Linked DNA regions of Homo sapiens. The protein of the gene in region 3 interacts with the protein of the main gene of each other region in a pairwise test. Each region holds a gene or a part of one and is shown on either strand. Other genes may lie near its edges.

What was found.
Region 1: the proteins of MISP (region 3) and LMO1 interact in binary tests that used the Homo sapiens proteins (3 or more experiments, as listed by UniProt).
Region 2: the proteins of MISP (region 3) and FHL2 interact in binary tests that used the Homo sapiens proteins (3 or more experiments, as listed by UniProt).
Region 4: the proteins of MISP (region 3) and PNMA2 interact in binary tests that used the Homo sapiens proteins (3 or more experiments, as listed by UniProt).

The regions. Positions count from the first base shown.
Region 1 is NC_000011.10:8,260,859-8,268,110, reverse strand, and holds the start of LMO1 (rhombotin-1), read left to right. Parts: upstream 1-4,232; 5' UTR 4,233-4,748; coding exon 4,749-4,773; intron 4,774-5,260; exon of another isoform or gene 5,261-5,353; intron 5,354-7,252. UniProt on the Homo sapiens protein: May be involved in gene regulation within neural lineage cells potentially by direct DNA binding or by binding to other transcription factors.
Region 2 is NC_000002.12:105,382,028-105,389,052, forward strand, and holds part of FHL2 (four and a half LIM domains protein 2), read right to left. Parts: intron 4,514-7,025; 5' UTR 4,490-4,513; coding exon 4,334-4,489; intron 3,873-4,333; exon of another isoform or gene 2,084-3,872; intron 1-2,083. UniProt on the Homo sapiens protein: May function as a molecular transmitter linking various signaling pathways to transcriptional regulation. Negatively regulates the transcriptional repressor E4F1 and may function in cell growth.
Region 3 is NC_000019.10:754,111-761,135, reverse strand, and holds part of MISP (mitotic interactor and substrate of PLK1), read right to left. Parts: intron 6,690-7,025; exon of another isoform or gene 6,327-6,689; intron 4,247-6,326; 5' UTR 4,190-4,246; coding exon 2,410-4,189; intron 1,228-2,409; coding exon 1,097-1,227; intron 1-1,096. UniProt on the Homo sapiens protein: Plays a role in mitotic spindle orientation and mitotic progression.
Region 4 is NC_000008.11:26,504,195-26,510,891, forward strand, and holds the end of PNMA2 (paraneoplastic antigen Ma2), read right to left. Parts: intron 5,484-6,697; 5' UTR 5,354-5,483; intron 5,050-5,353; 5' UTR 4,562-5,049; coding exon 3,467-4,561; 3' UTR 507-3,466; downstream 1-506.

The DNA.
Region 1 (7,252 bases), on a different chromosome or scaffold from region 3:
TCCGGAGCGCCTCTGCGACCCGCACCGCGGGCTTCCCGGCAGTGCCCACTGCCAGCCAGTCTCCCAGCCTCTCTGGGTGTCTGCACGTTCCCCTTCCGCACCCTACTGCGGAACGGATCCCAGCGGGGTGGTGGGGGTGCCCACAGATCCTGCAGGTGCAGGGGTGAGGGTGCCGTCAAACCAGCACTGTCTCTGCGGTCTGGCACTCCGTAGCTGCGGGATGGCTGACAATTGTCTCCGCCCCTGGCAGGGCTAGGGAGGGAACTGCCATCAGTTCACCCAGCCTGGCATGTTGGGAGGTGCCACGCTGGCTGGGGTAGGTGGGTGGGCCATCTAGTCCAAAATATCAGGTTCAACTAGAGGCGGTTTTACCTTGAAGCTAATGAAGTTTAGGGTCCTTCAGGTTCCTTCAGCTGCCAGGTCCTTGGTGGTAATTTGGTATTAGTAGTCTTGTAGTCCTTTTCTTAAAGAGCCCCACGCCCAAACTACAGTAAGCTTTGGACCTCACAAAATTTCCATCCATCCCTGGGTCCAACTCCTACCCTTTCCACTGCCAGTCTCTTGGAAGAACTCACAGCTCTGGCTGACCCAGAGACCATCCGCCGAGGCTGGGACAATCCCTTAGTGCCTGAAGGACGAAGTGCTGGGGCAGGAGGCTGGAAGGTTTGGGGTTGAGAGGCAACTTCTGGGCTGCAGGGAAAGGGTCTGGCTGCCTGGCCTTCCTCTCTGGCCCAGCTAGTCCCTTGACCCATCCTACCACCACTCACTATAGTGATCAATTGTCCTTGTTTGCTCAGGACGATCTCAATTTTAGTACTGAACATCCTGTATCCTAGGAAACCCTTGAGTCACAAGGCAAACTTGGACAGTTGGTCAGTGCACACCCAAAACCTTCTCAGGGCTGTGGTGCAGGGGTAGGGGAGATTTCTTTGCTATGGTGCAGATTTGGCTTAGGCCTCCACAAGGCCTAACAATCTATAACTGCTGCTTGCAAGAAGGCCTGTCCAGGCTCTCCAGAAACCAAAAGAGGAAAAGTTTGCCGACTGTGCACTTCTTCACTCCAGCGGGTTGCAAATTCCTGTGCATTGGCTGCTTTTGTGTAAGCAGGGGGAAGGGAAGGGCATCTGAACATGGCCAGCAGGCATCCTGATTGCACTGCGAAGTCTGTAGGTTTACTCTGTCCTGTCAACTGTGGTGGCCACAGAGAAGGGGTCCTCGTCACCCCAATACCTCTCTGAGCATCACCTGTGTGGCTAGCTTGTAACTCCGTCTTGGAGGCAGCTGCATTGTGTTGGGAGCAGGCCCTCTGGCTGAGGCACATCTGACAGTCTCCACCAAAGACTTCTGTAATATCTAGTCGGCCTGGGCCCTCAGGCCCTGGGTCCCACTATCTCCCACCCCCACTCCTAATGCAGGAACTCTTCCTCGGGACTTTCCTGCCAGGTGGAGGGGCAAATTGCTGGGACCTGCCCAGATATTTGTAAGACAGCCAGTAGCACCCACTTTCTCCTTAAACTAACCTTGGGGATTGATAGTTGTCCTCTCCCTGCCATTCCCAGAGGCATTTCGAGGGCATTTTGGAGCACTCTTGGCTTGTCGAAGTGAGAGTACATGCTCATCACCTGTGGAATGTGTTGGGGGAAAACTACCTCCCCCAGCCCCAGGGGATCTGAGGATTCCACTCTGGTGCTGTGGGCGTGTCCCTGGACCTAGAAGCAGCTTGGGTGGGGTGAGCATGGGGGTGGGGCGAGTATGGGGGTGGGAGTTACTTGCTTGCCCAGTGAGTGGAGAGAGGCCATCAGATGGGGTGAGTGATGTTTCTATCTGCCTCTGTCAACCCAGCAAGCCCCTTCCTGGCTGGAAGCTCAAGCCACCCAAACCCTCCAAGACTTGCTGTGAAGGTTCCTCTCCAGATCAGTTTGGGAGCACCATGCTCACAGCTGGGGGTGCAGAAAGAGCCACCTGTGGGCACACACAGCACCAGTCCCCTGCTGGCATGCCCTACCTGCTTCTGCAGCCCATTGCTCAGCACCCCAGGCCTGCTCCAGTCCCTGGGTTTGGGGCACAGGGCCCTGACTCCCCAAAGGGATGCCAGTCATGTGGCTGCCAATTAGGTACCTTGGAGGCTGAGGTGAGCTGGTATTCAGACAAACTCGTGGACAAGAGAGTGGAAGAGTGGCCACAGCTAGCCCAGTCCTGGTTTGTGGGTCAGGGCCAGCCCCTGAAAGTGAGGAGAATCTGCCCCTGGAGGTCAGTAGTAAGGCTGCATGCAGCCCCGATGGAGTGAACGCCTCCAGTAGCACAGAGGTTTCTACGGCAAGAAGTTGCCCCTTGCCAGCCTGTCAGGCCCTGTGCTTGCTACACTGTCTAGCCCCCAGCTCTGGTGGGTGTGAGGGGCTGGCACCAAATATGCCGGTGGCAGCGGTGCCAAAGCCTCCCTCAGACCCTGAGGGCATGGGTCTGGCGGCAGTGGCAGGGGAGAGATCAAGCTCGCAGTCCTGAGGCTGGTGAGTCTGAGCAAAATGATATATTTAACATCAAATATACTCAAGGACTATTAGGATTAAGTATTCAAGATGAAGGGGAAAGTGAAACCCTCTGAGCTGCAGATGAGGCATCTCATTAGAAGCAGCGCTTTTCTGTTTTCTCAAAGCCTGACTTCCCTGCCTAGCAGAGAGGAATATGGCTGCAGCCCGCTGCTCCCCATCCCTGTCAAGCACTGGGGCCTCCCAGGGCTTAAAGGGTAAGACCTAGCCTCCAGGTCTCCTTCAAACCAGATAATCTCCCCCCATCCCCCTGCATTGTCTGGAGTGCCACAGTTTACAAAGCACATTAACATGCATTAGCTCATCTGACCCCCACAGCAACCATAGATACAGGAAGAGTAGGTCTCCCACCTCACAGCCAAGGAAACTGAGGCCCAGATAGAGAAAGAGACTTGCTAAGGTCCACTGTTGGTAATTGGCAGAGATGAGATAGAATCCCAACTGGTGGCCCTTCAGCCCGTTTCTCTTTCCCTGGGTCTAGTCCTCAGAAGTGATTGCCAGGACCAAGCCTCCAACACATCTGTCTGGAGCCCTCCTTGGGCTGAAGAAAAATCATTATTTCTATCCCACCTTGGAACTCTGTACTGTCTAGGCAAAGAAAAAAGACTTGGGATTTAAAAGTAGGTGGCCTTCCGGCCAGGCGCAGCAGCTCACGCCTGTAATCCCATCACTGTGGGAGGCTGAGGTGGGTGGATCACGAGGTCAGGAGTTCGAGACCAGCCTGGCCAATATGGTAAAACCCCGTCTCTACTAAAAAATACAAAAATTAGCTGGGCGTGGTGGTGTGTGCCTGTAATCCCAGCTACTCGGAAGGCTGAGGCAGAAGATTCGCTGGAACCTGGGAGCCGGAGCTTGCAGTGAGCCGAGATCACACCACTGCACTCCAGCCTGGGCAACAGAGCAAGACTCCATCTTAAAAAAGAAAAAACAGAAAGAAAGAAAAAGGAATGAAAAGAAAAAAAGTAGGTGGGTAGGTGGCCTTCCTAGGGTAGGCAGCCAGAACATCAGCCCCAGGATTCTGGGGAGAAGCAGGGTCCAGGAGAAGAGATGGGCACTGTCTCTTTTCCTGCCTTATGAGTTACAGAGCAAGAATCGTCAACTCCATAATAGCAGCAGGAATCTTTGTTTTGTTCAGTGCTGTATCCCTAGTGCCTTAGAACTGTGCTTGGCACATAATACATGCTCAGTAAATATTTGTAGAATGAGAAAAGCTTTCAAGGCCATGCCTGTGCTTGCTTCGAGAGAAGTTGAGATAAGCTCTCCCGCTCCATGGAGTCAGGATGCTTTTGGGGGTGCTGCTGGGGTCAGGAGTAGTGCTGTAAGACTCGGTAGGATCGTTTGTGCCCTGAAGAGGGTTAACTTTGCCAAACAATCCGGGAAGCAACACGAAACCCCGGGCAGAACTGGTAGGAAGGAAAAGGATGTGATCAGAGAAATATTGCTCTGAAGAAGAGACAAAAATCAAGGCTGAGGGTCTGGGAGTGACAGATGGGATGCGTCCTCCAGACAATCATTGAAGACCACGACCCTGGGATCGGAGCAAAGACGCTCACCGAGCTAGGACCTAGAAGCCTCCAGGTGGCGCTGCGGAGCCGGACAGCCGTGCGTCTCCACTCCCCATTAACCCGGGAGGGTGGAGGCCTCAGGAAATGTGTGCATTTATGCAGTAGCAGGAGTGCAAACCTCATACATTGAGGGAGAAAGGCAGCGGGAGACGGCCACGAGATTCCCCCATCTCTTTGAATATAATTTTAGATTGAGATTCAGATTAAATCCGAGGGGAAAACACTTTATGAGGCTGAAAGCTGTGTCGTTGCCAGAGACAGGGTTATGAGCTATCAAATGCAATTACATTAAGACAGATTATACTGGGCAAATTGAGCCATTTAGAAGGTGAGAATCAAAGAAACGGCTCTGATCCTCTTTTCCCCCTTCTCTCTCCCTCTCCCTCTCTCTCTAAATTGCAGTTCGTAGTTCCTTCCAATTCTGAGGCACAAAAGTAGGTGAGACTGCTTTTGTATCTGCGAAGTGCTTCACTCCTGAATGTAATTCTAGCTGAGTGCAATCTAGGTTAAGAGCCGGACAAGCGGGTAATTAGAGCCCGCTAGCTGCCCGAAGACCGGCCGCCCCTCCAAAGCGCGCCCCGAGTCGGCGCCCTTCTCCCGGCCGAGCCTAGCTGCGGCTGGACACGGAGCGCCCGAGATGATGGTGCTGGACAAGGAGGACGGTAGGTGGCGGGCCGGGGTCTCGACGCCCCTCACCCCCTCGCCCCCTGCCGCGGCGCGCAGGCACACACACGCGGGGACACGGGCGCACACCTGCTGGGCTGTGCGGGGATTGCGGGGCGGGCGGCGCGCTGGGGGCCGGGGCTGGGGCGGGGGGAAGTACCGGGGGACAGCCGGGCGGAACTTGCGGGGGGAGGAGGTCGAGCCCCGGGCTGCACGCGCCCGGGGCCGCACGCCCCCCGGGTCCCGGCCGCGAGCCGAGGAGCTGTGCACTGGCCGTGTGCTGCGCCGCGGGGCCGCGCGGAGGCTGGGGCTCCCTTGCGATCTCCGCGCCGCGGAGGTTCGCTCTGAGCATTTCGTGTCTGAGGCTGCTGCTCTCACCGCAGCCATCACCCTCGCGCCAGCCGCCGCGTAACCCGAGAGGCGCTGAGCGCCGAGCAAATCAGCGGCTTCGGGGAGAATCGGGCTCCAGAGCTCGGGGCAAGCGGGAGCGCGGGAGGACGGCGCGAGCGCCAGGGTGCCCGGCAGGCGAGGGGAAGGCGGGTTGGACCCTCCGGGGGACATCTGCATGAGCGTGACTCGGTGAGAAAGAGAGCCGCCTCTTGTGCCGGCCCGCTAGCTCCCTGTCTCTCTGAGCGCGGAGGCGGGAGTTTGGCCCAGAGGAAGAAAGTGTCCCGCCGCCGGCCGGTAGCACTTGTGCGGGAGCGGCCTGCGAGAGTGGCACGGACCTTCCGTGGTCGAGCCTCAGTGCGCCCTAGAAAACTGCAGGGCACGGGAAAGGTCGGAACAGAGGAGCCCATGGCTGCTGGAAGCCACTAGCAGGTGGTCCCATAGACCCCAAAGCCTTACTGGCAGGGAGTGCCCTGCAGTTAAGTGTCCTAGAAGGCTGGGGATCCCAGCCCCCTTGGGGGGAAAGCCAAGTGGGTGCCCTAAGATGAGTCCCCAGGGTAAGGAGAGAGGCAGTACCTTGGCTGTCCCAGGACCTCCTGCCCTGTAGGTGAGGCCTGTGTGTTGGTGTTGCAGGGGCATTTGTATGTGACTGTTGGTGCCCACGCTGCCGCCGGCGTTCTGCCATTGGTGAGGTACCGAAAGGGTAGGTTTGCTTTGAGTCAGCGGGAATCCTCTTAAAGTGACTGTAGTGGCCATCCTCTGCCCTTCCGTTCAGGAGTCTCTGCTGGGCCTGAGCCCTCTGTCCCTGGGGCAGCGTTGTTATTGATGTGGCCAGTTGGTGAAAATGCAAAGCTAAGTGACTTGCTCAGGGTCACACAGGATGTTCGCATTGCCGCTGCCAGGTGCCGATGCCCCCAGGCTGCTACCGCCTTCTGAGACATCCAGCAGGGAGGGGGAATTTGAAGTATCTGGCCTGGGGGTGGCATCTAGGAGGACCTGTGGCTCTCAGTATGTGTGTAGGAAGAGAGAGGATGGGGGGAACCTCAGTGCTTCTGGGCTAGCTGGGGTGGGACATCATCTTCAATATGTCTTCTCTATTCACGGACCCCTTCCCTGGAGCCCCATGTAGGCCATCGGAGAACTTCATATAGAATGAAAAGGAGAAGAAGGGGTCTGGGGTTGGGCCAGACAGGGAGGGAAGAGACCTTGATTTGGTGCCTTTCATCACGAACTCCCCATGTTCACCTTCCCTCTTGGTAAAAATGAAGGGCTTGGAGAAGCCAGGGGAGAGGGTACTTCCTTGGTACCTGGAGATACTGTCACTATGGGGAGCATGCAAGGTTCATCTTTAGCAGAGGTTATTTGGCATACTTGGCTCCCCAGGCCCAAGCCAGGAATCCAGAAGACTCGGGCTCTGTACGTGAGAGGCCTCAGGCCAGGGAGATTGGTCTCATGCCAACAAGATGACACCCCCTACCTGCACCCAGGATCTTGCTCTGCCCAGGCACCACATGATGCCTCTGGCTCTGAGATAATACAAAGGGTTTCAGATGAGCCTTGAGTGAGAATGGATTTCTGGAGGTCATTTTAGCCAGCTCCCTGCCTCCAAATTGCAGTGTACCTCAAGCACCCTGGGCAGATGTTTCTTCTGGTTTCTGCTAGATCTGTGGAAGAGAGCTCCAGATGCCCCTCCATCCCCAGCCTGTCCAGCCTAAACAATATGGTGCCCACTACCATGGAGCTGCTGGGCTCTGGGGTCCATTACAGCACAAGCACATCCACTGGTGTCCTAAGCAGCCACCTATTCTTGTCCTACCCAGCCCATAGCTGTCTTTCAAAAGCGACGTTTCTGCTCATGCATCTGCACTCCACTCCCTATTAAGAGGAGTCTGGCCTCCCATAGTTCCAGGAAACCTTGAAGATGGCATCTTCAATTGGGGGAGGGAGAAAGGTTCTGGATGCACTCATCTGCTCCTCCAAACCAACCACCTATCTTCTTCTTGAACGCTTCTGCCCTCTCAGCAGGTGGCTATCTGAACTGGGTGGCAGCATTCCCCCACCCCCCGGCTCCCCCAAAGGGTGCGTTCCCTG
Region 2 (7,025 bases), on a different chromosome or scaffold from region 3:
ATGTGTGAAAACCTTCGTCTCCTATTTCAGAGCCCTGCCAGGTTGCTTTCTGCCAAAATATCACTGAACATTTCTGTCCATTACCAAACATTAACTGAGACTTTTACAGCCAATTTGATCATCACTTCAATGTTTCCTATTAGCTACAAAAGCTGGAAAGAGAGTTTGTGAAACAACTTGAGCCTCAATTCTGCAATGTAATCATCACCATCTAAAGGGGCCCATGAGAAGAGTAGGGGCCTCTGACTGAAGGTCACTTGATTGAGGCCAGGTGGTCACCATCTCTTACTCATAAGGACTGACCACATCTGGCCCGAGAGTCACATAGACAGGGTCCTGCCCGAGGCTGCAGGTAGCAGGTGGCATCACATGCTAGGTGAGGACCCTCCGGGTCTGGGCTCAAATTGTACCTCGGATACTTCCTAATCCCTTTAACCCTTGGCAAGATCCTCATCCTCTCTAGGCCTCAGCGGCTACTCCATAAAATGGAATGAAAAAAGTTCCTACCTATAGGGTGTTAGGAGAAATTTAGATCATGCAGTTTAGGCATTTACAAGTGCCTGGAACAAGTCATCAGGCAATACACAGTGGTTTCAAAGACTACCACTAGAAACTAAACCCTGAATGCTAGTTTCTGATCTGCAGATCTTTTGTTCTTGTTTATTATTTTTTTTTTCTCTTTGTAGCACCCTCCAAGCACATGGGTGGGTATGGTGGCCAGTCCAATTTCATGGCATTGCTTGCAGACCCATGGAACATTCAAAGTCTAGGTTACGTGTGTCGCCCAGGGCTTAAAATCACCAATTTGTTAAATGCACAGTATTAGCAGCTGTCTCTGGAGTTATTGGCCAGCCTATTTTTTATTTTTATTTTTTTAAGATGGAGTCTTGCTCTGTCACCCAGGCTGGAGTACAGTGGCGCAATCTTGGCTCACTGCAACCTCTACCTTCCAGGTTCAAATGATTCTCCTGCCTCAGCCTCCCAAGTAGCTGGGATTACAGGTGCACGCCACCACACCCAGCTTATTTTTGTATTTTTAGTAGAGACGGGGTTTCGCCATGTTGGCCAGGCTGGTCTCCAGCTCCTGGCCTCAAGTGTTCCACCTGCCTCGGCCTCCCAAAGTGCTGGAATTACAGGCGTGGGCCACTGTGCCCAGCCCTATTTTTTCTTTAGTTGGTTGAATTTTTGAAGCCCAGAACGTAGGCAGATCCCCCAAAAACTCTGTAATCAGTCTACGAAAATATTTTGTTAATGCTAACAGGTATCCAAGAAAAGGTTCAGGAAGCATGTAATGTCAGAGGATCATAAAATTGTATTAGCATTGTCTATTCTCCACTATTACACTGGCCATACAAATCAATAATCTTTACCCTTTGAGATCACAGCATTTTCCCAGAGTAACTTAATAGAAATAAAGATTACAATTCAGTGGCTACATAGAGAGGATGTTCAAACTATATAACAGGCTCTGAAGTCTTGCCTGTCTCATTTAAGTAGGTCAGGACTCTCAAAATTAGCCTAATTCCCATAGGCATGCCAACATTTAAAACTCACACACATGAACATGTCCTTTAGAGGGAAGTAGCTGAGGCCTGTGGTGGCTGTGCTATTTTAAGAGAAGAGATTGGCCACCAGACCTAAGAGCACAGTTCCTCTATCAGGTATCTCCCCGCCTGCCAGGATTGTGGGCTTTACTTCCAGAAAAAAACAGGAACATTTTTTTCTATCATTGCTTCCACTACAAACCCAACTACCCGATTATTTTTGAAAGTCAAGAAAAGCACGCCTAAAGCATCAAAAGCCCCAAATGCCAAGGTCTCGCTTCAACTCAATGTCTCTTTTTGTTCCAAAATGTACAAAATCATACAGTGTAACCCCACGTATCTCAAAACATTAATCCGGGTTGAAAAGTTCAGCACAATTCACTCCTGGCTTGACAGCAGCCTTGATGATTTTGGCTCCATTTGGGAGACTCTTGTTTATTTGCTCATAAAACATGCGTGGAAGGATGACGGCTTTTAAGGGTCTTTCCACTAAATCACTGGAGAAACAGCAAGTGATTTTTGTTTTGTTTTTATTTCAGCCACTGGTCAGGGATGATTAGCCCCAAATATCCAAAATCTGTCCTTGAAAGTGAGACTTACCTTTTGCCAGATGATATCTGAACCTCTCACCTACGTAAGTATTTCTTTTCCAGCTAAAGCTTTTATAATTATATTTTTCTCGGGCTATCTACTTCTTCCTCAAACTGGACATTTTTATTGATGTTTCCAAAATGAAAAGCGACAAAGAGAGAGGGTGAAGCTTCTGAAAGGTGTGTGGAAGGGACGTGTCACGAAAAGAATAAGGAAGTAGTCAGCAGAAAGGTGGCAGTCTGGAGCTTACCCTGTCAGCTGCTAGAAGAGTACGAGTGCGAGTGCAAGGGCTTGTATCTACATACTAGAAAGACCCTATGAAGCAGACCCCTGGTTCTCCCCAGTTTTTTTTGGGTCTTTTTTGAGACAGAGTCTTACTCTGTGTCCCAGGCTGGAGTGCAGTGGCATGATCTCGGCTCACTGTAACTTCTGCCTCCCAGGTTCAAGTGATTCTCGTGCCTCAGCCTCTCAAGTAGCTGGGATTACAGATATGCACCACCACGCCCAGCTAATTTTTGTATTTTCAGTAGACACAGGGTTTCGCCATGTTGGCCAGGCTGGTCTCGAACTCCCGGCCTCAATTGATTCACCCGCCTTGGCCTCCCAAAGTGCTGGGATTATAGGCTTTGAGCCTATGCCCCTGGCCTGGTTCTCCCCATTTTATAGATGTGGAGATGTGCACGGAAGGGTCAAGTAACTGACCCAAGGCCACACAGCAAGTGAGACACAGAGCCTGGGCTGGAACTGGGCAGTCTGGTGGCTGAGCTCTCATGCTTGTCCTGTTAAATACATGAAAAGGGACAGAGAAAAGTCGTCAGGTGCAGTGAGACACGCAGCAGGCAAGACAGGATACAGGAAGATACACAACTTTTAGAGTAGCCAGATCAGCTATTTTTGCTTATGGTATTTCAAAGGTTTGGCACAATACCACTGTTGAGTTTCGTTTCTTTTACATTCAGCACAGCATCTGCCCTGAAGCCAAAAGACACAGGGCTGCAGCATTGGTTTAGGGGGCTGGTGCTGTACCTCTTTCGTCTCTGCTCAAGGCAGAGGTCTCTTTCGCTACAAGATGGAAACCATCCCTCAACTGTCACTAAATCCCTGGGAACAGAAAGTGATGGTGCAGCCTTCTGATTCCTGTCTTTCCTAAGAATGATGTGATCAGAGAAGGAAATAGAAGGAACACATGTTGGATGTGCTAGAATGATCCAACTGCATGCATGGCCTAAGTCAATCAGTCAGCGGCAATGTGCTGATATTAACGACCAGGGAGGAGAGCAGCAAAAATCCCTACAGAGCACAAAGCAACGAGAGCAGAAAAGAGATAGTAAAATGCCATGAACTGACTTGGTGCCCATTCAGTTGGGAATTCCTTTAGAGATGCCAAAGGAATCCCATTTTGTAGCCAGTTTCACGGCACTCAGGATGACAGCCACATGAGGGGTTTCACTGGAGTGTTTTAGAAGCCGTTTGCGGGTGAAGGTATCAGAGAGTTCAGAGCTATGGATGGGTCCCCCAGGGTGTCCTTCAGCAATCCAGGTTGGAACAAGAGTCTGCTGAGAAGCGCAGGTCAGGGTTCACCACCCTCAACCACGGGGCAGTTGGTACAAGTGACCAGTGGTCTTTGCTGAACCACGCTGTGACATACCAGGAGAGCCATGAACACATTTCCCCATTGAAAGGAAACAATACAAATCCTGTCCTTCTCTCATTAAAGGAAAAGAGCTCACAATCTTCCAAGGACTTTGTGCTTTTATGTGCCCATTTATCCAGGAACCAACTCTGGTTCTCTCATGTACACATTCATTCATCAAATATTGACTGAGCACAGCACCTGCTCCACGTTACTCACCACGGGGCAAACAGACAAGAGGAAGAGAGCACCACCCTTAAGAAAGTTCCAGTATTGGTAGGCAGCTGGGTAGTTAGATAAGGGCACTAATTGCTAGAATACAGAAAATGTACTTAGAGATACTAAGCACAAAAGTCCTGGCAAGGCCCTCACCCAGTGCTTGTGGGCAGAGATCACATTCGCTAGAGGGAAGAAGCTTCCGAAAGGCTACACGCAGGGTCCACGCCCCTCAGAGGGGGCTCAAGAGACAGACTTCAGTGGTGGATCAGGGCTTCAGCACAAACCACAGAGAAACCCGTGTTTCCTAGGGGAGCGCCGGGGACCCGCAGAGGCCCGCAGCAGGTACCTTGCAGTCACAGCCGATGGGCTTCCCACACTCCTCGCAGGTGTTGGCGAACAGGGTCTCAAAGCACACCACGCAGTAGGGGCTCTCCTCCCGCAGGATGTACTTCTTGCCAAAGAGAGATTCGTTGCAATGGTGGCAGTCAAAGCGCTCAGTCATTTTGACTCCTGGCTTTTCAGCAACCTATCAAAAAGAAAAGAAAATCCAAGTCCCATTAAGCACTCTCTGAAAGGGGTGCACGCAAAGGCATTAACTGTCCCACTGTCTGTCATCTTTAGCCGAAAGGTGGCTAATTCCTCTGGATGAATAATTAAAACTCACCCTTTAATCGGTCATAATTTTTAATGATAACACCTTTTTTCATTAGCTAGGGCGGTTTTGTGTTTGAATGCATTCCACTTTTTTTTTTTTTTTTTTTTTTTTTGGAGACAGAGTCTTGTTCTTTTGCCCAGGCTGGAGTGCAGTGGTGCGATCTCGGCTCACTGCAACCTCCGCCTCCCAGGTTCAAGTGATTCTCCTGCCTCAGCCTCCCAAGTAGCTGAGATTACAGGCACCTGCCACCACACCCAGCTAACTTTTATATTTTTAGTAGAGACAGGGTTTTACCATGTTGGCTAGGCTGGTCTCAAACTCCTGACCTCGGGTGATCTGCCCACCTCAGCCTCCCAAACTGCTGAGATTACAGGCGTGAGCCATCACGCCTGGTCACATTCCACTTCTTGAAAAGCACAAATTATTTTTTACTGTGTCAGAAAAAGCTATCTCAGTTTTAAATGCAGGTAAGGGCTGACACCAGAGCCCCCATCCTGTCCGGCTGTGACCCGGCCTTGCATCTTCCCCTTCTCCCTGCCTCCAAAATAGAAAGGCAGGCATAGAAATAATACGTCCATTTCTATAAAAAGATTTTCCGTGAGCTCCTCTTTATGATTCATGATTTGAATAGGAAGAAATCACAGTGGCAAAAGGGAGGGAGATCTGACCTGGGAAACCTGAGATTAGATGCAATGAGGGCACTAATACCCTTGACCTGGGAGTGCAAGCTGCCCTTGCACAAGAAAAACTGCCAAAGTCCCTGAGGATGAATCATTGCTCCCTGCGGGTAAGATCATCCTGCAGCTGCCCAGGTACCCTGAGAGCAGGATAAATGGAAAGACTCACTTCCCAAAACAATGATATCAAATAGTCAGAAATGCAGTGGCTGCAGTCAGTGGCTCTCTGGGCAACACCTCAAGCCCTTCCAACAGGAACAGGACACTGGCGAGGTTGCAGAGAAAAGGGAACATTTATACACTGTGGGTGGGAGTGTAAATTAGTTCAACCCTTGTGGAAAGCAGTATGGTGATTCCTCCAAGAGCTAAAAACAGAACTACCATTTGACCCAGCAATCCCATTACTGGGAATACACCCAGAGGAATACAAATCATTCTACCATAAAGACACATGTACATGAATGTTCATTGCAGCACTCTTCACAATACCGACAACATGGAATCAACCTAAATGCCCAGCGATGACAGATTGGATAAAGAAAATGTGGTACATATACATCATGAAATACTATGCAGCCACAAAAAAGAATGAGATCATGTCTTTTGCAGGAACACGGATGGAGCTGGAGGCCATTATCCTTAGCAAACTAATGCAGGAACAGAAAGCCAAATACTGCATGTTCTCACTTGTAAGTGAGGGCTAAATGAGGGAACACATGAACACAAAGAGGTAAACAACAGACGCTGGGGTCTACTTGAGCGGGGAGGGAGGATGGCAGGAGAGAGAGGAGCAGAAAACATAACACTTGGGTACTAGGCTTAATACCTGGGTGATGAAATAATATGTACAACAAACCCCTGTGACAAGAGTTTACCTGTATAACAAACCTGCACATGTACCCCGAACCTAAAATAAAAGTTTAAAATAAGGGGTCTCCATGCCCGGCACACTGCATTTTTCTAGGATGAATACGCAGTGTGAATAAGCAGCAAGTGATGGGCCCTCCTCTTATGACCATTCCTATAAAATCATGTTAGAATGATCCTGGAGAGAAAAAGCCTACCACAGGAATAGCTGGTGTGGAGAAACGGCCATAGGGCATTAAAAACACAGACAATTTTCTTCAGGAATAAATGGCAATATTCCATTTGCTAAAAGTGGAAAGTTTTCTCTGTTCTTAAATAGGTACACTGGGCTGGGTGCAGTCACTCACGCCTGTAATCCCAGCACTTTGGGAGGCCGAGACAGGTGGATCACCTGAGGTTGGGAGCTTGAGACCAGTCTGGCCAACATGGTGAAACCCTGTCTCTACTAAAAATACAAAAAAAAAAAAAAAATTAGCCGGGCTTACTGGCACATGCCTGTAATCCCAGCTACTCAGGACGCTAAGGCAGGAGAATCATTTGAACCCAGGAAGTGGAGGTTGCAGTGAGCTGAGATGATACCACTGCACCCCAGCCTGGGCAACAGAGCGAGACTCCGTCTCAAAAAAAAAAAATAGGTACACTGGTTGGCTATGTAACTCTGAGCAAGAGTTCACAGGATCTAAGAAAACTTGGTTCAATTTGCAGTCTTCAAAAGATAGGCGAGTGAAATGCCAGAATCAGACCTTCTGATGCAAATAAAATATTGCCGCCTGGTTTGTGATTACAGTAATTTTGTACTATTGCGTATACACGATCCTGACAACTGTAAGCAAGGAAAA
Region 3 (7,025 bases):
CCTGGGTGACAGAGCGAGACTCCATCTCAAAAAAAAAAAAAAAAAAAAAAGGACATAATATTCCTCATGGCACTAAATATTCCTCGTGTCATTAAAAGTGACGTGAGGAATATTTCATACTGACAAAAGGAGCTCTCATCCAAGAGGATAAACATACATGAACAATTACATGTCTAACAACAAGGCATCAAAATTCATAAAGTAAAACCCCTAAGGCAAAGCTCTGTGGCCTGTAGGTCCTGGAGTCAAGCCTGGGTTCATGAGCTGCCTAACCCTGGGCATGTGAGACCACCAGGGTGCTAAAGGTGTGGTTCATTGGAAGCCCCGAGCCAGCGTGTGACAGACACATCCCTCCGTCTCTCCCTCTCCCTCCCTCCCTTCCTTCCTCGCTTTGTTCCTTCCTTCCCTCCATCCCTCCCTCCCTCCTGCCTTCTCTCTCTCTCTCTCTCTTTCTTAGAAGTAAATATCTGTGGCCAGGTGCAGTGGCTCATGCCTATAATCCCAGCACTTTGGGAGGCCCAAGTGGGCAGGTCACTTGAGATCGGTTTGAGACCAGCCTGGCTAACATGGTGAAACCACGTCTCTACTAAAAATACAAAAAAATTAGCCGGGCGTGGTGGTGCACGCCTGTAATCCCAGCTACTCAGGAGGCTGAGGCAGGAGAATCACTTCAACCCGGGAGGTGGAGGTTGCAGTGAGCCGAGATCGTGCTACTGCACTCCAGCCTGGGCGACAGAGTGAGACTCCGTCTCAAAAAAAAAAAAAAAAAAAGAAACTAATGCTGGTGACGATGACAAATTGCCAGTGTCCTCCTCCTCCAAGCAGAGTTGGTCCTTTGGTCTTTGATCCTGGAGATGACCTCCTGATGGGGACAAAGACCCCAGCTTATATGGCCTCTCCAAGCAGAAGCCCAGAGATACAAGGACACCAAGTTTATCATCTTCTACCTGACATCTGCAGGAGACTGAGGCACGGCCAGGGGTGGGGGTAGTGCTTGAACCCAGGTCAGGCTTGAGTCCTGCTTGAACTTCCTGTGGCCCTAATAGGGGCTGTCTGACCTCAGCCTGGCCTCTGCAGAGACGGGTTCCAGACTCACCCATTGCTCCTTCTTTCTCTGCCCGGGAGGAGCACTGTCCACTGGATCTTCCACTGTCCACGCCACGTTTGAGTGTAGGTGGATGGGGCTGAAGAAGGGAGACTCAGACACCGAGTAACTGCCCGTGATGCCTGTAGGGGAGCAGGGAGGGCAGAACATTAGAACATTTGTCAGACCTCTGCTCGGGAGACAGAGTCTCTAGCCAGCAGCTAAGGAGACAGATGTATGGACAGACAGAGCAGATGACTATCCGGGAAACTGACAGATTGACCAAAGTAGCCAGTCAGGAGAAACTGGATGCACAGATGGGCCGACATGCAAGGTGAAGAACATTAAAAGTGGCCGGGCGCGGTGGCTCACGCCTGTAATCCCAGCACTTTGGGAGGCCGAGGTGGGTGGATCACGAGGTCAGGAGATCGAGACCGTCCTGGCTAACACGGTGAAACCCCATCTCTACTAAAAATACAAAAAAATTAGCCAGGCGTGGAGGCAGGCGCCTGTAGTCCCAGCTACTCAGGAGGCTGAGGCGAGAGAATGGCGTGAACCCGGGAGGCGGAGCTTGCAGTGAGCCGAGATCGCGCCACTGCACTCCAGCCTGGGTGACAGAGCGAGACTCCATCTCAAAAAAAAAAAAAAAAAACATTAAAAGTGACACAAGGAATATTTCATATTGTCAAAAAGGTGCAACTGTCCAAGAGGATAAACATATATGAACAGGCCGGGAGCAGTGGCTCATGCTTGTAATCCCAGCACTTTGGGAGGCCAAGGCAGGGTGGATCGCCTGAGGTCAGGAGTTCAAGACCAGCCTGGCCAACATGATGAAACCTGTCTCTACTAAAAATACAAAAATTAGCCGGGAGTGGTGGTGGGCACCTGTAATCCCAGCTACTCAGGAGGCTGAGGCAGGAGAATCGCTTGAACCCAGGAGGTGGAGGTTACAGTGAGTTGAGATCCTGCCACTGCACTCCAGCCTGGGCGACAGAGCGAGACTCCGTCTCAAAAAAGAAAACCGAAAAACAAAAAACAAAAACAAAAACAAAACACACAAAACATATATGAACATTTATGCGCCTAACAACAAGGCATCCAAATCCATAAAGCAAAAGCCCTAAGGTAAAGTTGACATTTCTCTCCAAAATCTACATTTTTAATAGACAGGCAGACAAACCAGCGACTGAGGGGATGAACAGTCAGGAGGCAATGTCTCCCCAACCCCAGCCCTTTGACAGCCTCAAACTCCACCTCCCCACCCTCCCCTGCTCCAACCTCTGAGACCCTGAGCCAAGCAGCCACTCCCTGGAGCCCCTTCTCACCGGATGCCTGGGAGGAGCTCCTGGAGTTCTGGTCAGAGTTCTCATCTGGCGTTGGGGAGAAGACCTCTGGGAAGAGAGCATTTCTCCGCTCCTCTGCCACCTCTTGCTCCCGGCGCAGGACACTCTCCCTCTCCCTTTCCAGCAGATCAGATGACTGGGACTTCTGCAGCCTCAGTGCAGGGGCCCCAGCCACCTCCCAGCCCCAGACATGGGGGACTTGGGCCTGCTGGGGCTCGTCTGGGGCCCTGAACCGCAGAGGACGCAGGCGGAAGTACTCCCACCGCACGACACCCCTGTTGGCTTGCGGGCATCCCCGAGGGGGCTTCGATGCCTCTTGCTTTGTGCTCAGGGGTTTTCCAGAGGATTCTGAGAGATGCCTCGGGGACATCGTGGCCTTTGGTGAAGTCGCAGCCTTGGCCTCCGCTGTGGAGAGACTGCTGGGCTTGCCGAATGCTCCGAAGGCTGAGAATTCTAGCTGGGGGGTCCCGGGGCTCAGGTACGGCTGGTAGGCATCAGGTGGGATGCGGTTCACCTTCCTCACTTCTGGAGCTGGGTCGGCCGCACGGGCATCTGGGGCCGGGCTGAGGATGGAATCTGAGCTGAGGGCTCTCCGGAGTCCGGGCTGGGGACCCTCCGAGACCCAGTCGGGTGTGGACGCCCGGCCCACGTGCAGGCCCTCCCGCCGGTGGTCTTCCTCACGCTGTGTCTCCTGTACTATGTCCCGCTGCACGTAGAGGGACGGGCGCCCTCTCTCCCGCCGTGGGGCTGTGATCAGGCTCAGCTTGGTCAGCAGCGGCCTGGTGGGGATTTCCACCAGCTCCTGGTGGTCGGTTGCCTGCCGAAGCCCCCTCTGCTCTCGCAGGTCTGCCTCACGCTCCTGAGCCAGACGGATCTCCCGCTCGATGGGCGTCTCCTTGGGGGTCCCCGGGGACTCCACTGAGGCCAAGGAGCCAGGGTCATCCACAACTTGGACACTGGCCCAGGTGGGCACAGCACGCACCTTGTTCTCTTCCCTGACCACCCCCTTCACCTGGGGCTTGATGGGAACCACGTGCCCGTTGGCCAGGTGGGGCTTGTTGAAGGCCTTGGGGGCCTGGCTGGCCCCTGGGGTTGTGCCTGCAGGGGTCCCCCTGGCCGGGGAGCTATGAGGGGCCCCCTTGTTCGCCTGCTCCAGACTCAGGAACTGCTGTCTCGCTGCCAGGAAGTCAATCTGCTCCCTGTCAACCACGTTCTCCTCCAGGGGCGTGGACCGAGGTGGGCCGGGGGTCCTGGGGTCTCCGTGGTCAGGAGTGCCCTGGAGCGTGGCCACGGTGCTGCTCTTCCTGACTGCCTGGCCCTGGATGACGGCCCAGCGCTCCCGCTCCAGGTCACACAGCCTCCTGGGGTCAGCGTCCCCAGCATCCAGGCGGTAGGTCTTCATCTCCTTGTCCTCCCCGTCCTCTGGGCGGAGTGCCCATGTTGGACGTCCCTGGTGGGCATCCCTGGCGCCCAGGCGGTAAACCTGCCAACCCTCATCCTCCCTGTTCTCCGAGTGGAGCCCCCGTGGGGACGGCTGGCCAGTGTAGGCATGCACGCTGTAGGACACCCCCTGCCTCTGCACGCCCTGCTGGGCCCTGTGGTCAGTGGGCCATGTCTGCGGCTCATCCTGGCCCCAGCCGCTGGCCTCGGGGCCCATGCACACCAGATGGTATGTGTAGCTGGTGTCTCCATCCAGCACCAGGCCGGTGCCACGGTGTGCCTGAGGGATGCCCAGGATGGGGTATCTGGTCACGCGGTCCATCTCTTCCGGGGTCTTGGCCTCAGCCTTCCTCCCGTGGGGTGGAGACCTCTGGGCTTACTGAGGGAGGAGAAGGAAATGAGGGCCATCAAGTCAGAGCACCTAGGGAGAGGAACAGCCTCCAGTCCCCCAAAGGGCAAAGGGTCCATCAAATGGCCTTTGTGATTGGTTTAGGGATGGGTAAGTGACACAGTCCAGCCACTCAGAGCAGCCCATTCTCTAACCTCTGTGATTGGTTTAGGGGTGCGTAAGTGACAGTCCAGCCAATCAGTGCATCCCATTCTCTAACCTCTGTGATTGGTTTAGGGGTGCGTGACACAGTACAGCCACTCAGAGCAGCCCATTGTCTAATCTCTGTGATTGGCTAAGGGATAGGTAAGTAACTCAGCCTGGCCAATCAGAGCATCCCACCTTCTGGCCTCTGTGATTGGTTCAAGGATGAGTAAATGGCCCAGCCTGGCCAGTCAGAGTAGCCCATTCTCTGGCCTCTGTGATTGGTTCAGGGATGGGTAAGTGACTCATCCTGATCAATCAGAGCATCCCACCCACTGGCCTCTGTGATTGGTTCAAAGATGGGTAAGTGACCTAGTCCAGCCAGTGAGAGCATTTCACCCTCTGGCCTCTGTAATTGGTTCAGAGATGAGCATGTGACCCAGTCTAGCCAATGACATGAGACCCTGGGACTTTACAATTAATGCAGAAGATGGGACCCTCTTCCCGCTGGTCTTGTTAGGCTGATGGAATGAGATAGTGAATTGCTGGGGACGTAAATGCCCCCAGTGGGTACAGCTTGCTTGACAGCAACCCCAACACCAGCAAAGCATCCTGAAAACTTTTAAGCTCCCTGATTCCAACCATACCTGAATCTCTGAATGTCCCGGTTACTACCCCAACAACTCGCATTATATGTTTCTAACATTTGCAGCCCAATAAAATCAGGGTGCCCTGCCCACCTTATCTCCCAGACACACACACCTGCCCTGTGGAGTCCAGCTCAGCCTTGATTTTTTTTTTTTTGAGATGGAGTCTCGCTCTGTTGCCCAGCCTGGAGTGCAGTGGCACAATGTCAGCTCACTGCAACCTCTGCTTCCAGGTTCAAGCAATTCTCGTGCCTCAGCCTCCTGAGTAGCTGGGATTACAGGCGCTAACCTCCCAAGTCCGGCTAATTTTTTGTATTTTTAGTAGAGACGAGGTCTCACCATGTTGGCCAGGTTGGTCTCGAACTCCTGAGCTCAGGTGATCTGCCCGCCTCGGCCTCCCAAAGTGCTGGAATTACAGGCGTGAGCCACCGCGCCTGGCCTCAGCCTTGATCTCTGAAGCCTTCCTTGGCCGCACCATATTTATCTGTGTCTCCTGTGCACTGAGCCTTTCCACCCTGAGCTCACTCTGAGACTCCTGGTGTGGGATTTTTCCATCTGACAATTACAGATGGCCCCTTGCTAAGGGATGTCAAATGGAGAAACTGAGGCCCAGAGAGAAGGACTGACAGCAACTCCAGTTTCCCGGCTCCCACATCCTGGTTCTCCACCCTGCCCTGCCCAGCTGGACACCTCGTCCCATCTGAGACAACATCCCCGCCTGGGCCTTGTCGCCATAAAGCCAGGATGGGCAAAGGAACACCGTGGACCTTGTCCCGCTGGGCCCAGGTGGGGCCGTGGAGCGAGCGGGTGACACCCTGACCCAGTGCCTTCCGGCTCTCGCCCTCTCCCAAGGGTCCAGGTTGCTGCTGGGCTCAGTTCCAGGAGCCTTCCCGGAGGTCACACACCTGCTCGCATCGCTTCTGTGGCTCCTGGCATCTGCAGGGCACAGTTCTCACACCCTGCTCCTGGCCTTAGCACGAAACCCCAATTTCTGTGGGCACCTCCACCCCAAGCCAGGCCCTCCTCTTCTACCCCAAACCAGACCCTCCTCTTCCACCCCAAACCAGGCCCTCCTCTTCCACCCCAAACCAGGCCCTCTTCCTCCACCCCAAGCCAGGCCCTCCTCTTCCACCCCAAACCAGACCCTCCTCTTCCACCCAAACCAGACCCTCCTCTTCCACCCAAACCAGGCCCTCTTCCTCCAACCCAAACCAGACCCTCCTCTTCCACCCCAAACCAGGCCCTCTTCCTCCACCCCAAACCTCGCCCTCCTCCTCTACCTGCAGCTCTCTCTGTCTCGAGGCTGCCTGTTTCTGCTTCTCCACGGCTTCCTCTGCTGAAGCCCATGGACACCTCCTCCAGGAAGTAACCCAGATTGCCCCTCCCCCAGAGCCATCATCTGAACACCTCCTTCATGTCAGGCCTTGTACCCAGCACCCGTCTTAGGTATTGTCTTTTGTTTTGAGACAGAGTCTCGCTGCGATGCACAGGCTGGACTGCGGTAGCGTGATCTCAGCTCACTGCAATCTCCACCTCCCGGGTTCAAGCAATTCTCCTGCCTCAGCCTCCTGAGTAGCTGGGACTACGGGCACCCGCCCCCACACCCGGCTAATTTTTTCTTTTTTTTGAGGCGGAGTCTCACTCTGTCGCCCAGGCTGGAGTGCAGTGGCGCGATCTCGGCTCCCTGCAAGCTCTGCCTCCCAGGTTCACGCCATTCTCCTGCCTCAGCCTCCCTAGAGCTGGGACTACGGGCGCCCGCCACCACGCCTGGCTAATTTTTTGTATTTTTAGTAGAGACGGGGTTTCACCATATTAGCCAGGATGGTCTTGATCTCCTGACCTCGTGATCCTCCCGCCTCGGCCTCCCAAAGTGTTGGGATTACAGGCGTGAGCCACCGCGCCCAGCCAGGACACCCGGCTAATTTTTGTATTGTTAGTAGAGACGGGTTTCACCATGTTGGCCAGGCTGGTCTTGAACT
Region 4 (6,697 bases), on a different chromosome or scaffold from region 3:
GAGAATCACTTGAAGCTGGTAGGCAGAGTTTGCAGTGAGCCGAGATTGTGCCACTATACTCCAGCCTGGGTGACACCTTGTCTCAAAAAAAAGAAGAAGAAGAAGAAGAAAAAGGGTGACTTCAGCCCAGAAAAGCAATATTCGACCTTCAGGGTCATTCACCCTTGGCAGAATAGAGTCTGGGAATTTATCTGTACAGTTACTTTCCTAAGCAAATGAGCTGGGGGGTCTCTGAGGCAACTGACCTCCATCTGTTGTTTCTGTATATTTTAAAAGAGAAATCGATAATGGGTGGACCGAGCTCTCCCTTGTCCCCAGAGACATAGTTCAAGTATTCTTGTTCAAGCATTTTTTTGCTTTCAGGTTTTCTTGCCTACAGGATTCTAAGACCTTTTGGCTTTAGCTTGATTTTCTCAACTTATCTCTCAAAATTTTTCAGTAACAAAGCTCCTTCTTCAAGCAGTACTTTATAGAGACCACGATATAGGAAACAGAAAAACTCAGGATTTTATTAGCATATATTTATTTTATAACTTCACATTTATAACATTTTACTTTGTATACCGCCAATAAATGACAATGAAACTATTTTCATAAATACAAAAACACATGAAATTAGGGTGTCATGGTAACCACTGCATCACTTTGGTGGAACAGTATTAAAAATAGAATTTAGAAAGATAAATGATCACAAGTGATACCTTTTAAAAAATGCTTTTCTTACAATCTCAGGATATTCTTCAGTTAAACTGAACCACAATCAGAAAAAATAAGTAATTATTTAAAAGTCAAACCTCTAACAATTGTCAACAACTGCTGGAAGAGTCATCACAAATATAAAAAACAACAAGCACTCAAATTTACAATAAGAGATGAAACGGTTTCTAACACCAGGGTAGACTGGAAGTCAACTGGAAGCATATTAGCTTGTTACCACACAACTGTCAGAACAATAAAGAAAGCATGCATTGAGCAGACAGGAACATCGTGAAAATCCTAAGAGCTTCAATGTATTGAGGGCTTTCTGTGTTCCAGATGTCATGCAACGTGCTTAAAAAGCATTAAGTCATTTGTTCATAACAACCGTGTACTCTCATCTTCTTATTTTTCAGATGTGGAAACTGATGTCTAGAGAAGCTAAGCAATTTGCTTACAGTATGCACAAATCTACCACAAGACTACACATCAACTGTGTTGGAGATTTGCCTAGCACATATAACTAAATGGTGCTCATCTGCACTGCACTCACACACTTACGTGATACACAGGTCTGATCTAAATACACAGGTCTGATCTACACAACCATGTGGTGCTACCGCTTTTAAAATCTGTGAACAATTAAAAGAAGTTTGGATACGTACACAGATACCATAAAGGAAACTTTGCTCTAAGGTCTGCACAAAATGAGCCAATCTGAAAATAAAAGTAAACCTGGTGGTGAATGCTGATGTGTTAAAATTTGGTTATCAGCCCATTTGAATCTAGCTGCATTTACTAGAGACTTAAAGAGTTTAGCCCAGGCATGGTGGCTCACACCTGTAATCCCAGCACTTTGGGAGGCCGAGGTGAGTGGATCACTTGAGGTCAGGAGTTCGAGACCAGCCTGGCCAACATGGTGAAACCCCATTTCTACTAAAAATACAAAAATTAGCTGGGCGTGGTGGTGGGTGCCTGTAATCCCAGCTACTCGGGAGGCTGAGGCACGAAATCGCTTGAACCTGGGAGGCGGAGGTTGCAGTGAGCTGAGATTGCACCACTGCACTCCAGCCTGGGTGATAGAGCAAGACTCAGTCTCAAAATAATACTAATAATAATTAAAAAAATAAAGAGTTTAAAACACATTTTGGAGATGGCACTGCTAGAAAATCTGCAGAACTGCAGAGCACAATTTGAAAGTCATCGTGATGGTAGAGGATGGACTAGTGTGAGTCAGAAAGTTCTGGGCTTCTGTCTAGGCTCCATCACTTCTTGGCATTTTGGTGTTGAGGAGACCACTTAACTCATCTGAGCTTCGGTCTTTCTCTTTATAAAGAGCAAAATTATACCACAACAGGGTGGCTGTATACATTCAATGAGATATACATGAAACACTTTGCACACAGTAGGCCCTCAATAAATGTGAGTTCCTTTTCTCTCCTCTTCATCCTTTGTTGCCACTAAAAGCCTTCTCTAAGCAAACCAGCCTGCTCACTAAATCCAAACCTGCCCTAAACAACCCTGCTCTCAAGCATGCAGTCCCCTCATGTCCCCCTTTCTTTGGGGACACCTCTCAGGCTGTGGACCTCTGGAAAGTAAAGCTTAGGTTGAGTCATCTGTGTCTTCAGGGCCTGACACAGCACCTAGCTCTGGGACCATCTATCTGACACCTAGCAGAAAGGCAGGAAGAACACTTCCCAGGTTAAAACAACAACAACAATGACAACAACAACAACAAAAATCTGCAGGCAGAGGTGGTCCTATTCACTGGGTGATGACACTTTTACTGGGGTGATGAACTTATTTACACAAAGGGTTAGTTAGCCTTTTACCTGTCTAGATCAGCTCCTCATCTAGACTGGAACCTCTCTGAGGGCAGGGCCCATTTTGTAGGTTTATAACTGCTCAACTGCAGGTTATAGCTGTAGTCTTGTAACTCCTTGTACAGTGTCTCACAAAGCCAGGCACTCAGAGAGAATTTGCTGATTTGAGAAAGGAAAACACCTGACAAGTCAAACAGCTTTATTTTTCAAACATTACAAAAGGTATTTTTTTTTTTGACTGCCAATTCTTTCTTCTATGGTATGGGCCAATTCTGGTCTATTTGGGATTATTTAAAGAAAATTGGAAGTACAAGTGTTTCAGATTCCTTCAGGCTTACTATTTAATATTTGGAGTTTAATCTTTTGTTCATTAATAATCTACATAGGGTCTAAGAAACTCCTAGATATTTTTTTCTTAAAAAGAAAAATCAAGGGCCAGGCATGGCGGTTCATGCCTGTAATCCCAGCACTTTGGGAGGCCGAGTTGGGCACATCATTTGAGCCTAGGGGTTCCAGACCAGCCTGAGCAACACAGCAAAACCCTGTCTCTACCAAAAATACAAAAGAATAGCTAGGCATGGTGGTGCGTGCCTGTAGTCCCAGGTACTTGGGAGGCTAAGGTGTGAGGATCACCTGAGCCTGAGCCTGGGAAGTCAAGGCTGCAGTGAGCCGAGATTTTTGTGCCACTGCACTCTAGCCTGGGTGATGAGAGTGAGACCCAAGAAATAAAGAAGAAAGAGAAAAAGAAAAAAGGAAGGAAGGAAGGAAAGAGAGGAGAGGAGAGGAGAGAGGAGGAGAGAAGGAGAGAAGGAGGAAGGGAGGGAAGGAAGGAAGGAAGGAAGGTCAATAATTGGCTTTCATGGTTTGATTTCAGTCCCATACATTAAAGAAAAAAATTTTTTAAAGGTCTTAGCCCACTGGCTGTGGGTCCTGCCCCCAGGTGGTTTTCAGTCGTCTCCCTCATGATTCCAGCGGCCATAGCCATCTCGTTCCTCTGGCTCTTCGATACTCTCATTCTCAAAGGAGGCCTCTTCCTCCTCTTCTTCCCGTATTACCTTCATTAGCTCAAGGAAGCTGGGGGGCGGGCCCTGATCCTTCAGCTCCCTAAGCCGGCACCACAGCATCTGGTTAAGAGTGGCCCCAGCCATGACCTGCTCCAGGCGGACCTGGTCCGCAATACGCCGAGGGATGGCGCGTTTCTCCACCGCTCTCCGGAGCAGGGTTTCTAGCCGTAACACATAGGCTGAGACCTTCTCTCCTTCCTCCTGATAGGTCTTCAGATACCTCACCTGGGCTGTCCTGCGGCTCTCTAGGCTCCCAAACACTTGCTTAAAGGCCTCCAAACACTCTTCTACACTGATGGACGGGTTGTCTGCCTGCACTATGTGCATGAGGTCCAGGGCAGGGCCCCGCAGGCTTTCCGCCAGCCACCTTTTCTTTTCTGCCTCTGTTACTGGCCACTCTTTGACTATCTCCGTGGCCTGTTCCAACCAGACCTCAAAGGACTCTTCCTCTGGGGCTGGGACAGCACTCCCTGAGAATACTCGCAGTTTCCGGTATCTCATGGGTAGCAGGGGCTGAGGCGCATGTGCCATTGCCTGTCCCAACAAATGGGCCAGTAATTCTGGTGAGATGCAGGGCACTGTGGCTGGAGACACGCCCTCCTGCCCCAGGGCTCGAAACATACCCGAGACCGTCTGCCCCTCTTTTTCTAGAAACAGGTTCAATCTTTCAAGAAACTCAGTGTCCTGATTAGGGGTCTTAAAGATCACCTTCCAGACACCCCCCTTTCCCTGGACCTCACTGGGAATGGCCGAGACATCAGTATCTTCCAGAAGCTCTAGTAAGACAGCATTGGCATTCTCCTGCTTCCGGAATATCTTGCCAAGCAGTCTATACCTGCCCAGAGACTTTAAAGTCTCCTGAAGGACCTCCTGAATCTCAGCCTCCTCAAAGTCCGCCGGTATCCCCGTAACCATCAGTGACTTCTGCTCATCCACACTCATTATCCTGCACCAGTCCTCTAACAGTGCCAGCGCCATTGTCCTAAGAATTGACCCACTCTGACTCTACAGGCACCAATTTGTTAGTGGTGCAGCTATGCACTGACTTAATATTGAAAATATCCTGGATGAGCTTCTAACCTTAGAACCCACCAATGAATGGGTCCCAGACTAGGTCACTCAAAGACAGTCACAAAGTTTTCTGGACAAATGACCCTGGCCTACTCAGTGGCAAGAACTCAGGACTTCTTGTCTTTAGGCCTGACCCAGGTGGGCAGGTCGTATCTCAGTTCTAACCACACCTGTGCCCGCAGCTCTGAAGTCCGATTGCCAGTGATTTTCTCAAAGATGCTGGCAGCCACGTGACGCTGACCCTTCTCTGATAGTTGAGGCACCTGGGACAGCTGCTTTCTCCACAGCCTCCTGGTCTCTGATGTTTCGTCTCTCTCCAGTTGATGGGAAAATGCCTTCCACTCTGGGACCCAGAACTCTTGAAGAGAAGCCTCCCAGCAGGGCGGCTTGGACCCCTGGTGAAACAATGTTCAGTTTTACTACACAGCACTCTCTTTCCTTGGAAGCATCCATACTCTAATCTGGAATGGAACTGGGGGCAGATGGCGGTTCTGCTTTACACTGCGCTTGCATTTGTCCCACTCTGTCAGACCCCTTCTTTGCTCACTGTGACTTTTTTTTCTCTTGGGGACTCCAATGAAATCTGGTGTCCCCACCATATGCTCATCAGACCTGTTGATTAATGTCTGAGCCCCAGTTAAGGACAGGATTCAAGGTCTTTGCCATTGAAAGATGAAATCAGGAGATGTGGCTAAATACCTGTTGATGTGTTCCCGAGTGTTCCGCGAGAGGTGAGGAGCTTATTTATTCACCTTTTAGCACAGGAAGACATCACCCACCTCCACACAGTGGTGTGTCTGGCTCTTAGCTCCAGCCAAGCCAAGCTGCTCTGTTACACATAAACAATAAGAACAGGTATTTATGCTTCATTAATATTCAGTAGGAAGACCGTTAATGCACTTATTCAAAAATATGATAATCCTTCACAATACTACTCAATATTAAGTTGCTTTACCTCTTTGATTAACAAAACTAATGAGGAATCACTCAAACGTTTAAAAATAGTTTAATCTAGGTATAACAATTCAGGGAAAAAAATCTCAGGGCCGACTAAGTTAAATCGGGAATTATGAATTAATTCTCTTTTGTTGTGTCTGGAAGGCTTTGCAAACACACATTTGGGCTTTGCTTTTGCTATGAATGGTAAGTGAAATAGTTTGAAGGTTTGTCCCCTCCAAATCTCATGCTGAAATGTGATCCCCAGTGTTGGAGGTGGGGCCTGGTGGGATGTGTTTGGGTCATGAGAGTGGATCCCTTATGAATGGCTTGGTGCCATTCTTGGGGTAATGAGTGGGTTCTTGTTCTATTAGCTTCCTCGAGATCTGATTGTTAAAAACAGACTGCCACCTCCCTCCCCTCACTCTTGCTCCCTTTCTTGCCGCATCTGCTCCCTCTTTGCTTTCTGCTATGACTGGAAGCTTCCTGAGGGGTCACCAGATGCAGATGTCAGCACCATACTTCTTGTACAGCCTGCAGAACTGTGACCCAAATAAACCTCTTTTCTTTATAAATTATCCAGCCTCAGGTATTCCTTTATAGCAACACAAAATAGACTAAGACAATAAGTTACTAACACAACACTCTCCAAGCATTTGTTTCTGTTTCTGTTTTTTGAGACAGGGTCTCACTCTGTTGCCGAGGCTGGAATGCAGTGGTGTAAACACGGCTCACTGTAGTAGCCTTGATCTCTCCTGGGCTCAAGCAATCCTCCCACCTCGACCTCCTGAGTACCTGGGACCACAGGCACATGCCACCATGCCTGGCTAGTTTTTTAAATTTTGTGTAGAGACGCAGTCTCCTTACGTTGTTCAGCCTGGTCTCAAACTCCTGGGCTCAAGCAATCCTCCCGCCACAGCCTCTCACAGTGCTGAATTACACACTTGAATCACCACACCCAGCCTTTCCTAACATTTGAACTTTAACCCATCATTTGAGAAAAAAGAAAAAAGGAGGAAGCACACCTATCAAGGATTTTGTTCTGGAGAACCTGTGAGGATTAGAGAACGTAAAAAAGTTAGAGTTGGCCAGGCGTGGTGACTCATG